4 linked regions of the Homo sapiens genome follow. The protein of the gene in region 1 purifies or fractionates together with the protein of each later gene. This does not show direct contact. Each region holds a gene or a part of one and is shown on either strand. Other genes may lie near its edges.

Region 1 (3,386 bases):
GCTGATAGGAGACGTGCGGGGTGGACGGACTGCGGGACATCTGAAGGAAGGGCTCAAGGCGCGCCAAGCTCAAAGCTGGGCCGCCACTCTAGACCGTGGAGGGAAGCGCCCGGGCCAGATCATCGGTCGAGGACATGGGGTCGCCTCAGAGTGGGAAGGTGAGGGGCTCGGGAGGTGCCCTTACAAGCTCTGAATCGTGGCTTGGTGGCTGGCCAGCCTCCTCCTGCCTCCCCGGCTAGGCCCTCGGGGTCCCCCGCTGCCGTGGGACCTCCTGAGTGGGGTCCCGGGAATCACCAGAGAAGCACTGGAGGATGTTTCCTTTTCGACTGCCCTCCTTTCAAGTGCCCTCCTGGCTGCCTGCCTTCAAGGCAGGATGCGGGAACCGTTGGCTCTACTCAGTGCAAAAAGGACATGTCTATAGGGCTAAAAAGGGCTTGGAGCCCGGCGACAAGGGTTGGAGAGGGGCACATCCTCTGCTCCCATTCAGTGAATTCAGTGGATCAGTATCACGTATTTATCTTTAATTCACATCACAGCAGTCAAGGAAGTGGGGAAAGGGGGAAAAAAAATCAAGTGGCAGATATTTACATCTAAAATTCACATTACTTGTTGGATTTTGAACATGCTACCACAATATATACAGTAAAATACCTCTTGGGACAATGGTACAAATTTTGTTTCCTTTAACTTTGCTTTTCTGGTACAGGTAAGATCATTTTTAAATCACTTTTTTTCTTTAAACATGAATACACAAAAGAAATGGTTAGAAGTTTCCTTGTTTTAAATAAGCACAGAATGCGGGAGGTTAAAAACACATTTATAGTGCTGAATACCAATTGGACATCACACTCTATACATTTTTTGCTCAAATTCCTGTACAAATACACAGCATTCAAATAGGTATTTACAAATAAGCTTGAAAGAATGAAAATCAGTATTTTACAATCTTTTCAAAGGGTTCTCATCTCTGGCCTCCCATTTCCCCTCAGACTGACTTATTCTCCAACAAAAGGGATTTCAGAATGTGTCCTTTTCATTTAGTTAGGGAAAATGGAGAGGGAAAACAAACGGTTTCACCTTGCATAATGCGAAGCCAAATGAACCCATACTCCCCTCCCTACCTCTTGTGCCACCAAGTGGAGAAGGTAGCTGTTCTTATGTGATGACTGCCTTGTCCAGGGATTGACTTTCAGAAGTGCCTTAAAATCTAAGCCCTCCTACCTATGAATCAAATCCAAAACTAGCCCCTAACCCCTAACCCTCTAACACCTGTGAACACCAGATGGTCCAGAGATTGAAGCTTGCAAATGAATGTAGGCTGAGAAGCAGGCCAGCCCTTTGAGGTGAGGGCTGCTGTAACTGACCCATATCCTCAGCAGCCTTCCGCCCCACTCTGCCTGGAGTGAACCTGGTGGTATCAGAAGGGACCCACACTGGTGATAAACCCCCAGAAAAACCCTGGAGGTAATTTAGACCTCCATCTTTCCCAGTAGGTTATTAGCATTTCTGTTAAACAAGCTGGGGTTTGTTTACAAGAGAAAAACACACTGACCATGGCCTTTACTGTCTGGAAAGAGGGGCAGTGGAGAAGGGACAAGGGGCTTGGGCCCAGGGCCTGGCTGTGGAGGTCATACAGGCCAGCAGAAGAGGAACTGGGGGCAATACGCCTGCCCAACAAGGCAGCCTTGTGACCATCATTAATGTGAACTCGAGCAAATAAAAGAAAAAAAATATTTTGTAGGCTTTTTTTAAAGTAACTTAAAAGCACCCTGGTAAAGTACTACTATACCCACCTGACCCTATCCCCCCAAATAATAAACTGAGAGGAAAATCAGTGCCCTGACTTGAATGAGTTTCCTCTAAAGACACCACTGCTCTGCTTTATAGTTTCCTATAAAGACACCAACAGACTGGGGAGACTGGAGAAACTACCCTCCTGCCAGCCCCGAACCCTGAGTGGTGGTCCCCATGGCCTGGAGTGGGTTGCTGTATGTGGCCACTTGGGAGATGACAATTCTACCTGCATGGCTATCTGCTTCCAAAAGGAGAAGCCCCCTCCCACCCTCTTTACCCAGGAGCCTGCTGAACCTGACCACATGTCCTCAGGGCCTGGAAGCCTGGCTGGGCAGCCAACCCCATGGCTCAGAGGTAGTGCTGAAAATCCCTGATTCAGGAGCTGATGGTAGGCATTCTGGATGCTTCTGAAAGCTTTGAGGATTTCCGGCGCCTGCCACACCCCACACTCTTACACCAGTCTCTCTACCACATAGGAAGGGGACCAGCTCCCCCTAGGAGGAAGGTAGCTAGGATAGCCTCTCTGGCTCCATACCTCCACTCAAACCCCAGAGGGCGGGAGATAACCCTTGCAGATCCAGTCACCACTGGGGCTCCTGTGGGGCATGAGGTGTTTCAAGAATGGAAGGGAGCAAATGGTCAGAAATGATGTGATGGAGAGAAAAATCCAAGGTGGAGTAGGAGACGGCTGGCCCATTGAACCCTGGCAGTGCCCTGGGCATGCAGTTAGGCCAGTCACATGCCTGAGCCAGCAGGTTGGTCCAGCCAGCCCCTCAGTAGCACACTCCTGGATGGAAGAGGGGCAGGTGGGCAGGCATTTGTGCAAAACGGCTTGTGGCCCTTTTTCCACCTGTGACATGTCTATATGGTCCTTGCAATCCCTGAATGCAACCATGAACTCTTCTGTCCATACAGCAAAGGAAGAGGTCCTTAGTGCAATTTCCATTCGGTGCATCTCTACCCTGGAGGGAGGGCCTGGGCTCCCACTCCTGGGCCCTGCAGTGTGGCAAAGTGATTCTGTCTGTGCAATTTCTCCATGTAGCTCCACATGGTCCAGAACTGCAGGAGGAAGAAAGCATCTACTGCATAAAGGAAAGAAAGGAAAACCCATAGAAATGGAAATGTAAAAAAATAAAAAGGGAAGCCACAACCCTTCATGCTGCTGTGGCCTCTGTACATGGCAACACATGAGTTCACGGCAGTAGAACGGAGACTTGGGGGTGGTTCTCTCCTGAGTGCAAGCCTCTCTGGCTCCCTGGGGTGGGGCTGGGGGACTTGCTTTTCAGACCTGGAGTGATTGGCAAGCTGCTTACTGAGGGCGGCATCCCAGCCGCCTCGTTGCCCCTCACTGCTCCCCTCGGCCGTGCTCCCAGGCCATGCGGGCCTGCTCCTCCTTAGCGCTCCCAGGAGGCAATGGAGCCTTGCGGTGCAGGCCTCGAGGCCTCTCAGTCTCTTCACGCAGCAGCACCCCCTCATCGTGCTCCAGGGCCGGCAGGCGGGGGTGGTAGGGCTTGGGCGGCAGCGCAGGCGGGTCCATGGGGTCCTGAGGGATGACGCACCCTGGGGCTGAGTGGCTTCGGCATGGCTGGGCC
Region 2 (4,097 bases), on another chromosome or scaffold:
CCAAGCCGGTGGGGCAGGAAGGAGGGCCGAAGGGCCTAACCCCTTCCTTGCTACTCGTTGACTTCCTACCTTTACTGCATACAATTTGCCGCCTTTCTGCCCCAGATACACTTTCCCGAAGGCGCCCCGGCTAATGGGCTTCACTATGCTGAATTCCTCAATGGAGGGCGGTTTTGGCACTGCGATCCTATTCACGCCCTCCTCAGTCGCCGCGCCTCCTCCAGGCTCCTTCTTGCTTCCCGCGGTGGGATCCATCGCTGGACAGCATACAGCGGCCCCGCAGACACTGCCCCTCCGCGAGCAGCCACTCCCGCCAACTGGGTTCAAAGTGAGGCTCCGCCCACGCCGCGCGCGGCCGTGACGTCACCCCGCCGCCGCGCCCCGCCCTCGTCACCTCCCCTACGCAGACGCGGACGGAGGGGGCGTCGGGAAAGCCCCGACTTCGCAGCCTTACACTCTTCGTGGGCGGCGACCGCGGCCCCACTGACATCATTCCTCATGAGGGAGGAGGCACAAACAGTTCTGGGCCGACCAGAAAAAGGACGACTGGGACTTGACTCTGAATCGCAGGATTTGAAGAGATTTCTCCTGGCTTCCCAACGAGGCTGGTGGGAAGCGGTCCTCCTCCCATACACGACCTCCCACCCTCGCGAGGCGTAGAAACCAGTTCTGACTGTACAGTAAAGCGAGGGCCAGGGCTGAGGTCTGGAAGCTAATGAAAGCACAGAAAGTGTCGAAACTGGATGAGCAGGAAGCGAGTGGCCTCCCCTGTCATCTGACGTTTTCCCAGGATGTAATTTGCCTGACTGAAACAGATCAGGACCAACAGGGAGAGTTTTCGATTTAGTGTGAGGAAAAGAGCACTAAATTGTAGCAAAAGACCTTATTGCTCAAGGCCCAGTCAGAAGATTTCATAAGGAAGCTGTAGAAAGTCTTAAGAGGAAATCAGCCGGGCGTGGTGGCGGGCACCTGTAATCCCAGCTACTCGGGAGGCTGAGGCAGGAGAATCGCTTGAACCCGGGGAGCAGAGGTTGCAGTGAGCCGAGATCGCGCCACTGTACGCCAGCCTGGGCGAAAGAACGAAACTCCGTCTCCAAAAAAAAAAAAAACGAAGAAAAAGTCCAAAGAGGGTAAAGGCTGTTCTCCCCTTAAAAAACAGCTAAAGACCTTTGGGGGCGCTGCTCCTTGTAAATGTCAACTACTTCCGCGGGAAAGAACGCGCAGGCACTTGGCCTTGTGGGCGCTCACTTGCCCCGGAAGTACTGTTGAGTTAGCGCCTCGCCTTCCGGGGCGGATTGTCTGTCGTTGCAGTAGCTGTAGGAAGGGGAGGCCATTTTCCGTTTCTGGGAGGAGTGAGGGGCAACGGGTCGGAGAAAAAGGAAAAAAGAAGGGCTCAGCGCCTCCCCGCCGGGCCGTGGACAGAGGGGCACAGTTTCGGCAGGCGGGTGAGGTCGCTGAGGGCCCGCCGGAGATGTTTTCCTTGTCGAGCACGGTGCAACCCCAGGTAAGCCAGGCATTCAGCCCATTTTTTTTCCTCCCGCCCTGCCCGTGGCTGTTTGCAAATTGCGCTCGTGGAAGCGATTTCTCAGAAGGGACTCTAGAAATGAAGTGATGTACTCAATGCGAATCCCAGGATTGAGGAGTGGATCAGGGGACGACGCTGAGAGTGGGCCGGAGACTTCAGTGCTGACGATGAAGCTGTTGAGGGCAGAGGCGGGATGTGAGCTCAGTGATAGAGAGAGACCCTGGCTTATCGAACTGATTGCGTGGAATTTCTGCTAGAGAATCCGTCCGGCATTGTTCAGTGTCCGGCGTTCTGGGGTGGGAAAATGTCTGTACCATACATTAAAGGGAGCAGGTAATGTTCCCTTTTTTCCGACTTTCCAGTGGCTTTAGTGTTCACAGCCCCTATCCCCTGCTCTTTATTTCCTTTTAAATGGAATTTAAATTTAACCCAAACATGGTATAATATTTCGGATGGCCAGCCATGCAAGTTTTTTTCTCATTTTGACCAGAAGTAACTAAAATGTGTATTTCCGAGTCGTAAACTGTTTGCAGTTAAAATTTTGATTCAGCCTCATCCTCATCGTTTTGTAAAACAAAAGGTAGTGAAGAGAAAAATGATTTCAAGGGTTTTCATTACGCTCTTGGGCAATCACTTGTGACAATGTTTTATTCTTGCTTCATTCCAGTCTCTTTTTTTGATGGTAACATTTTAATAGATTTTTTGAGAGTTCCTACAGTTTTGCAAAGAAATAGTTTTTAAAACATTGAGTTTTTTTAAAACATAATTTTTAAGAAAATCGACACTCTTAGGTTCTTGATTTAAGCATATGATTGTGTTCCTTTGTGTAACTTTTACTCCCCCTCATTTTAAGAATTTTTAATTTTTTGTGCTAGTACTGGCTAACAAACTGAAGCAGCTGCTTGTTATTGGGCATCAGTTATGTACCAGGTGAGCAAAGCAAATGTGGAATCTTCTCTTAATATTGATATGAAGTAAATATGAGTAGGACTTAGCAAGGTGAAGAGTGAACAGGTATCACAGGCATACAGAAAAATACCTGGAGGTCCTGAGTTAGGAAAGGGTTTAGCAGGTTGAAGGAACAAAAATAAGGCTAGTGTGGCTAGAACATAGTAGTTAAAGGGGGTAGTGACAGAAGAGGTTGGAGAAAAGACTTGAGGCAGATCATACAGGGAGTAAAGGATATATTATGGCTGATTTCATTTTAAGTGTATTGGGAACCATTGAAAGTTTTAAAACATGATTAGATTTTCATTTTTAAGAGATGACTGGCTTTTGCTATATGGAGAATAGGAGAGGGCAAGAGTGGAAGATGTTATCAGCTAAAAATACCCACCCACCCCCCAATTAAAGCTGTTGCAGTGGTTATGGAAAGAAGAGAATGAGATATATTTTGAAGAAAGTGGAATTGCATGAGAGATCAGAGAGATGATGGGGAGAGGTGTTTCTGGGTTTGATCAGATGAATGCATTGAAGGTGCTATTTACCAAGATGACAGTGTCTGGAGAAGTCCTAGTAATTGTTTGAAAAAGAAGTCTGACATGGCCTATTGAATATGGTATTGAAGTTTTTGAAACTCAACTCTTTGCCTTAGTTCACATCAAGAGGCCTGATTTTAGGAGAATTTACCATCAACTGAATGGACAGTTAGTAGTATGTGATGTTGGTAGAGATGATAAAGGGATTTTTATGTACCCTAGGCAGTCTTAACAGGGCTCAAATATAGTGAGGACTCTCAGGCATTTCTTGCTTTGAAGGATGGTAACACATTTGGAATTCCTTGTTGCTTAATTGGTTGAATACACTTGAAATTAAATGGTAAAAAGGAAGACACAGAAAATGAACTTTTTCATTGAGAAGAGCTCAACTCTAAATCCTTTTGTGAAAGAAAAGAGATATAACTAATTCAAATAAAAGAGATATAACTAATTCAAATAAATCTTTTCAAAGAGGTAGAAAATATGTATCTTGAAATGATTTGATTATTTTTAAAGTTTCAAAAGAAGTTACTGTTTATTTTTTTTTCTTTTTACTGCCCCCAGGCTGTAAGGAACTTACTGTTTCTTTCTGACTCTAAAAATGATACATTGCTTCACTTGACTAGCCTTAAAACAAATCCATGTTTTTTTGCTAAAAATGCTGAAAGTATAAATAAGATCGCCCATAATCTCATTACTCAGGGATACGTATCTTAGACTAAATTCTTTCACACATTTTTTTCTATAAACAAACACGGGTATGCATACTTTTTTTTATTTTAATTTTTTTTTTTTTTTAAGATGGAGTCTCGCTCTGTCGCCCAGGCTGGAGTGCAGTGGCGCGATCTCCGCTCACTGCAAGCTCCGCCTCCCAGGTTCACGCCATTCTCCTGCCTCAGCCTCCCAAGTAGCTGGGACCACAGGCGCCCGCCACCACGCCCGGCTAATTTTTTGTATTTTTAGTAGAGATGGGGTTTCACCGTGTTAGCCAGGATGGTCTCCATCCCCTGACCTTGTGATCCGTCCGCCTCGGCCTCCCAGAGTGCTGGGATTACAGGCGTGAGCCACCGCGCCCCCACGGGTATGCATACTTA
Region 3 (2,548 bases), on another chromosome or scaffold:
CATCCATGGAGACACCCCCAGGGCCCAGGGCCACCACCAGGAGCAAGCCCCCAATCACCGACATGGTCTGGAAGAAGTCGTATTTCAGGAAGTCATGCATGGGCTTGTAGACTGGAATGGTCCAGAAGGCGTTGAAATATACGTTGATGGCAAAGAGCCACACAACAAGAGTCAAAGCAGCCAGCTTGGTTTTAAAACCAATGGCCACTAAAATCATCAGAGCTGTGCCCACGATGTTCTGGACAATCTGCATAGGTTGAAACGTAAGAAATTCAAAATAAATGTGAGGAAAAGAGATGCTTTATAAACAAAAGTTCCAGCTGCTGCACGTCATGAAGTCTCTATCCATCAGGCTGATGTAGCTACTGCTGAGACGGCTGCTGGTGCAAGTAGGGAGATAAAAGCCAAAGGGAGGCAGGAGGCAATAAAGCACCAGCTTTGAAATGTGGAAGGTTTGGGGAAGACTGAAGTTCCCAACTAGTAACAGGCTGTGATTTACCAAGATGAATCTCTAATCCATAACTAAATTCCCAAGTGCTTCTTGGCCCACCCAGCCATCCAGGCCAGAAACATCCTCTCTCCTCTCTCCATGGCGCCAGGAGCTCTTCCTGGACACTACCCGGCCAGGGCTCTCAGTCAGCTCCGGAGGTGTGCTCTGGAAGCTCCTGGAGGCCTGCCCCTGACACCTGACACACAGGAATTACTTGAGAAAGATACGAACAGTGAGGAAAGAAAGAAGAGTAAGGGGAGCCCGGGTGGAGAGCCTTGGCCAACCAAGGGCCAAGCACACTCCACCAAGGTCAGAGGTTCTGGCCTTCATTTGCTGGAAAGAAGGCTTGACACACAAGAGATTGACGATGTTTTGGTCTGTTTTAATGGGATCAAAAAGTTTGCTCCGCCGAGCACGGTGGCTCACGCCTGTAATCCCAGCAATTTGGGAGGCTGAGACAGGCAGATCACGAGGGGTCAGGAGATCGAGACCATCCTGGCTAACACGGTGAAACCCTGTCTCTACTAAAAATACAAAAAATTAGCCAGGCGTGTTGGCAGGCGCCTGTAGTCCCAGCTGCTCGGGAGGCTGAGGCAGGAGAATGGCGTGAACCCGGGAGGCGGAACTTGCGGTGAGCCGAGATCACGCACTGCACTCCAGCCTGGGGGACAGAGCGAGACTCCGTCTCAAAAAAAAAAAAAAAAAAGTTTGCTCCATTTCAGCAGCTCCCCCAGGCTGTGGTTAATACCCAACCAGGGAGGGGTGAGCAGGGAGGGGGTGGGGGAGGGACAGCATTCACAGGAAACCAGACCGGTTCAGGCAAGTAGGAATACTTACAGAAAAGAAGCTGGCGTCAAAGTGAAGGAGGGTCATGAACATCAGAACCAGCAAGACCCTGCCTCCGAGCTGCATGTACTGTTTGGGGGAGCTCTCACGCATGGTGGGGACGCCCGCAAACATGCTCTTCCCTTCAGAACGGGATTCTGCTAGGAGCAGCAACAGGCCTCCTCCCAGGGCCAGGTTCCTGAGGAACAGATATGTGGGCTGGAAGCTAAGCCTCACCAGGATCTGGCCTGTCTGTGAGACCAGGTGCAGGGAGACCTTGCTGCCAGTATAAGAAGGCCCTTACTTCCCTTTCTCCAAACCCAGTGATCTGCCAAGCAGGACCAGGCAGGCATGCGCACAGGACCTCAGACTCGAGTTACACCCATGTAAAACCTTACATAGCTCAGGAGACAGAGGTATCTTTACAACTCGACAGTGACAGGCTACCTGAACACACACACAACCGAGTCCTAGTCACAGCTTCAGTGTTGACCAGCTGGGTCCCCGTGGTCAGGTCTGTCCTCCACTCAGACCCGGAGTCCCCACACCCGTGAAATAAGGGTCAGAAGAGACGGCTTCAGTCTCTACTATTCTAGGGGCTCTGCAACATCCTCTTCAGAACCTGTTTCTAAGAGGCACAATTTAGACAGGGGGGTCCAATCTTTTGGCTTCCCTGGGCTACCCTGGAAGAACTGTCTTGGCCACACATAAAATACACTAATGCTAATGATAGGTGATGAGCTAAAAAATAAAACTTAAAAATCACAAAAAAAACTCTCAATGTTTTAAGAAAGTTTTTGAGTTTGTGTTGGGCCATGTTCACCCCGTGGACCACAGGCTGGACAAGCTTGGTTTAGACCCAGAGAAGTCTACTCAAACCAATAGTTAACTGAGTTTAGAAATACAGATTGAGTATCCCTAACCTGAAATGCTTAGGACCCAAAGTGTTTCAGATTTTGGTATATTTGCATTATATACTTATTGGCTGAGCATCCCAAATCTGAAAATCCAAAACCTGAAATGCTCCAATGAGCACTTCCTTTGAGCGTCATGTTGGTGCCCAAGATTTTTCCCATTTTGGAGCATTTCAGACTTTGGATTTGCAATGCTCAACCTGTAGAAGGAGCGTATACTAAAACCAACCAGAATGCACATACCTCATCAAAAACTTCAAGTCCCATAAAATGCTGTAGGCAATCGTCTGAGGGGAAAGAAGAGAGAGATACTTGAGTC
Region 4 (3,500 bases), on another chromosome or scaffold:
GCCTCAGCCTCCTGTGTAGCTGGGATTACAGGTGTGCACCACCACACCCAGCTAATTTTTGTATTTTTAGTAGAGATAGGGTTTTGCCATGTTGACCAGGCTGGTCTCGAACTCCTGGCCTCAAGTCATCCGCCCACCTTGGCCTCCCAAAGTGCTGGGATTACAGGTGTGAGCCACCGTGCCCGGCCCCTTCTCTCCTTTTTTTTATTTCACAGTAAAGAGTTAAGTTAAAAGACAAGTCAGGCAAAGAGAGTTAGGGTGGCCTAGCTGGGTCAGAGTCCCCTGCCTGTGCTTCTTGTCTGCTTCTGCTCCTTCTTTGCCTTTCCTGCATCTGGTACAGTTGTAGCTTGCCATTGCAGGTGCTGTATTTCTCTGAATCCCTCGTGCCCACGGCAAGGAAGGCTTTGTGTGACCCACTGGAGGAGGTCAGAGAGGCGGCAGCCAAGACTTTCGAGCAGCTGCATTCCACCATCGGCCACCAGGCTCTGGAGGACATTCTCCCATTTTTACTAAAGCAGCTGGTGAGTGGATCTACCACACACCTACCTACCAGTTTGGCTTTTGCCGTCTTTGTAGATGGAAAATACAGGGCGATTATTCTGCCAAGGCAGTCGCAATGTGGGCCCTCCAGAGGGAGTGGGTATAGCAAGATCAGACTTGGCTTTGTGCTTCGCCTTCGGCAGTGAGGAAATGTGGGTGCAACAGGAGGGAGGGAAACAAGTGGAGAAGGAAGTTGGCGGTGGCTGGTTGAGACAGCAGAGATGCAGATTCCTCAGGGTTGTCCCCAACACCCTCTGCAGGATGACGAGGAGGTGTCAGAGTTTGCCTTGGATGGTCTGAAGCAAGTCATGGCTATTAAGAGTCGTGTGGTGCTGCCCTACCTTGTGCCCAAGGTAAATCCCAACATGTGGTCAACACCCTCTGGCTCCAGGGCATTGACATTTCCAGGGCCTGCAGTGAAGACCAGTTCTGAACGTAGATGTTGGAGGGCTGGGGGAGGAGGGTGCAGTGCAAGCATTACATCCTTCCCCTGTTGTCTTCCAAGATATGCTGGAGTAGATGCTTGGCTCTGAGCAGTGGGCTTGGGCTCTCTTGCCCACCCGTCTGTTCCCAGAGCCTAGCGCAGCACCTGGCACAGTATTCACTGAGTTAATGTTTGTCATTCCACCAGCTGACAACGCCACCTGTCAACACCCGGGTGCTGGCTTTCCTTTCGTCAGTGGCTGGTGATGCCCTCACCCGTCATCTTGGCGTGATCCTCCCAGCGGTCATGCTGGCCCTGAAGGAAAAGCTTGGGACCCCAGATGAGCAGCTGGTAAGGGGCGAGCCTGCTCCTGCTTTCTCATGTCCCGTCTGCCCGGAGGATCCCTGCTCAGCACACATGTCCCTTGTGGTTTGCAGGAGATGGCCAATTGTCAGGCTGTGATCCTCTCCGTAGAGGATGACACAGGGCACCGGATCATCATCGAGGATCTGCTGGAGGCCACCCGCAGCCCTGAGGTGGGCATGAGGCAAGCTGCTGCCATCATCCTCAACATCTACTGTTCCCGCTCAAAGGCTGACTACACCAGCCACCTGCGGAGCCTGGTCTCGGGCCTGATCCGCCTCTTCAATGACTCCAGCCCTGTGGTTCTGGAGGAGAGCTGGGATGCCCTAAATGCCATCACTAAGGTGAGGGGACTGCTGACCCCACAGCCAACTTTTGCTTTTAGAAAATTCCAGACATTTACAGGAATAGACTTATAAGAATCCCCCACGTACCTGTCACTCAGCTTCGGCGTTTACCCACTCGTGGCAAGTCTTGTTTATACTCCCGCCCACGCTTTCCCCATATATTCTTTGGAAGCAGTCTTGAGAGGGCTGTACATCCTCTCGCTTTTTCCTGGATTCCTGCAGAAGCTGGATGCTGGCAACCAGTTGGCACTCATTGAAGAGCTGCACAAGGAAATCCGGCTCATAGGGAACGAGAGCAAAGGCGAGCATGTGCCAGGATTCTGCCTCCCGAAGAAGGTAAGCCAGGGCCTCGTGCAGGGGGCTGTGGGCGTGCAGTCTGTTGTGCCCTTCTGGCCCTTACCCCTGTCCCAGGTCTGCGGTAGGGGCTGCTGGAGCAGTAGCCGTGGTGGTTGGTGTTCAGCACCTTCGCAGACAGCATGTTTTCTTCCATGGCAGTCAGATGGGGACAGGGTTCATGCTGCCTTTGGTTTAAGCTCTGCAGGTCACCTTGGCCAGAGTGAGTGGGCCACAGGGTAACAGCAGTGCATGTTCTCTCTGTGTGATAGGCCTGTTGGGGCCCTTGTCGTCTTTTCTCTGCCAAGACCGTTCCATAGCCAGCCCTCTCAGGCTGTGATCCTGAGATTCAGCCCAAATCAATATCTCCCATGGAGTTGAGGGGAGGACAGCTGTCAGGACCACTTTGCTTGCATGGGAGACACCAGGGCCCAGGGTGTTTGAGATTTGACTCTCAGTTGTGGTTCTCTTGTCAGGGAGTGACCTCCATCCTTCCAGTGTTGCGGGAAGGAGTCCTGACTGGCAGCCCTGAGCAGAAGGAGGAGGCAGCCAAAGCCTTAGGCTTGGTAATCCGCCTGACCTCGGCTGACGCCCTGAGGCCCTCCGTGGTCAGCATCACTGGCCCTCTGATCCGCATCCTGGGGGACAGGTTCAGCTGGAATGTGAAGGCGGCTCTGCTCGAGACACTCAGCCTCTTGTTGGCTAAGGTGAGTGGCTGATGAGTTTGTTCAGATCTTAGAGAACAGGTCTGTCTGCAGGAGCCTGATACAAGGTGTCATGTAGCAGCAGGGCAACAGATTTATTGTGGAGAGCCGCATAGCAGAGGGAGGTAAGACCTTGGACTTCAGACATGCTACACCATGGGTCAATTCCAAGTCGTCCTTACTAGCTCTGTGACCAGGATGACCTTGGGAAAGCCATATAACCTAAGCCTGTTTCCTCACCTACAATGTGAGACTAATAATACCAGCTGCCTCATGAAGGGCTGCTAGATATGGGGATTAGATGAGGTTATGTCCAGCATGATGCCTGCTACATACTAAGCACTCAGTACATGTGAAATGCTATTATTTTGAAAAACTACTTTTTCAAAGGAAAAAATTCAGGACCACGTAAATACAAGGAAAACATTGTTTAAAGATATTGCAGTTTTTGTTTTTTTTTGTTTTTTGTTTTGTTTTGTTTTGTTTTTGAGACAGAGTCTAACTCTGTCACCCAGAGCTGGAGTGCAGTGGCGCGATCTCGGCTCACTGCAACCTCCGCCTCCTGGGTTCAAGCAATTCTTCTGCCTCAGCCTCCCAAGTAGCTGGGATTACAGGTGTCTGCCACTACACCTGGCTAATTTTTTTGTATTTTTAGTAGAGACAGGGTTTCACCAGGCTGGTCTCGAACTCCTGACCTCGCACAGCTCAGATTTACCAGCTCCCCCTATCCCCTTTGTGTGCCTGCCACAGCCTGCACACCCACCCAACTCCAGTATTTCCAGACCTTCA

What was found.
Region 2: the proteins of DOCK3 (region 1) and YME1L1 purify together in Homo sapiens (affinity purification with mass spectrometry, with the first as the bait; one large-scale study listed by BioGRID). This does not show direct contact.
Region 3: the proteins of DOCK3 (region 1) and SURF4 purify together in Homo sapiens (affinity purification with mass spectrometry; one large-scale study listed by BioGRID and IntAct). This does not show direct contact.
Region 4: the proteins of DOCK3 (region 1) and GCN1 purify together in Homo sapiens (affinity purification with mass spectrometry; one large-scale study listed by BioGRID and IntAct). This does not show direct contact.

The regions. Positions count from the first base shown.
Region 1 is NC_000003.12:51,381,313-51,384,698, reverse strand, and holds the end of DOCK3 (dedicator of cytokinesis protein 3), read right to left. Parts: coding exon 3,140-3,386; 3' UTR 501-3,139; downstream 1-500. UniProt on the Homo sapiens protein: Potential guanine nucleotide exchange factor (GEF). GEF proteins activate some small GTPases by exchanging bound GDP for free GTP.
Region 2 is NC_000010.11:27,151,585-27,155,681, reverse strand, and holds the start of YME1L1 (ATP-dependent zinc metalloprotease YME1L1), read left to right. Parts: upstream 1-1,297; 5' UTR 1,298-1,471; coding exon 1,472-1,504; intron 1,505-4,097. Other genes in the region: MASTL (serine/threonine-protein kinase greatwall), read right to left, coding at 70-255. UniProt on the Homo sapiens protein: ATP-dependent metalloprotease that catalyzes the degradation of folded and unfolded proteins with a suitable degron sequence in the mitochondrial intermembrane region.
Region 3 is NC_000009.12:133,363,513-133,366,060, forward strand, and holds part of SURF4 (surfeit locus protein 4), read right to left. Parts: intron 2,517-2,548; coding exon 2,473-2,516; intron 1,515-2,472; coding exon 1,328-1,514; intron 248-1,327; coding exon 1-247. UniProt on the Homo sapiens protein: Endoplasmic reticulum cargo receptor that mediates the export of lipoproteins by recruiting cargos into COPII vesicles to facilitate their secretion.
Region 4 is NC_000012.12:120,135,716-120,139,215, reverse strand, and holds part of GCN1 (stalled ribosome sensor GCN1), read left to right. Parts: intron 1-359; coding exon 360-521; intron 522-800; coding exon 801-893; intron 894-1,171; coding exon 1,172-1,315; intron 1,316-1,401; coding exon 1,402-1,671; intron 1,672-1,896; coding exon 1,897-2,010; intron 2,011-2,483; coding exon 2,484-2,714; intron 2,715-3,500. UniProt on the Homo sapiens protein: Ribosome collision sensor that plays a key role in the RNF14-RNF25 translation quality control pathway, a pathway that takes place when a ribosome has stalled during translation, and which promotes ubiquitination and degradation of translation factors on stalled ribosomes.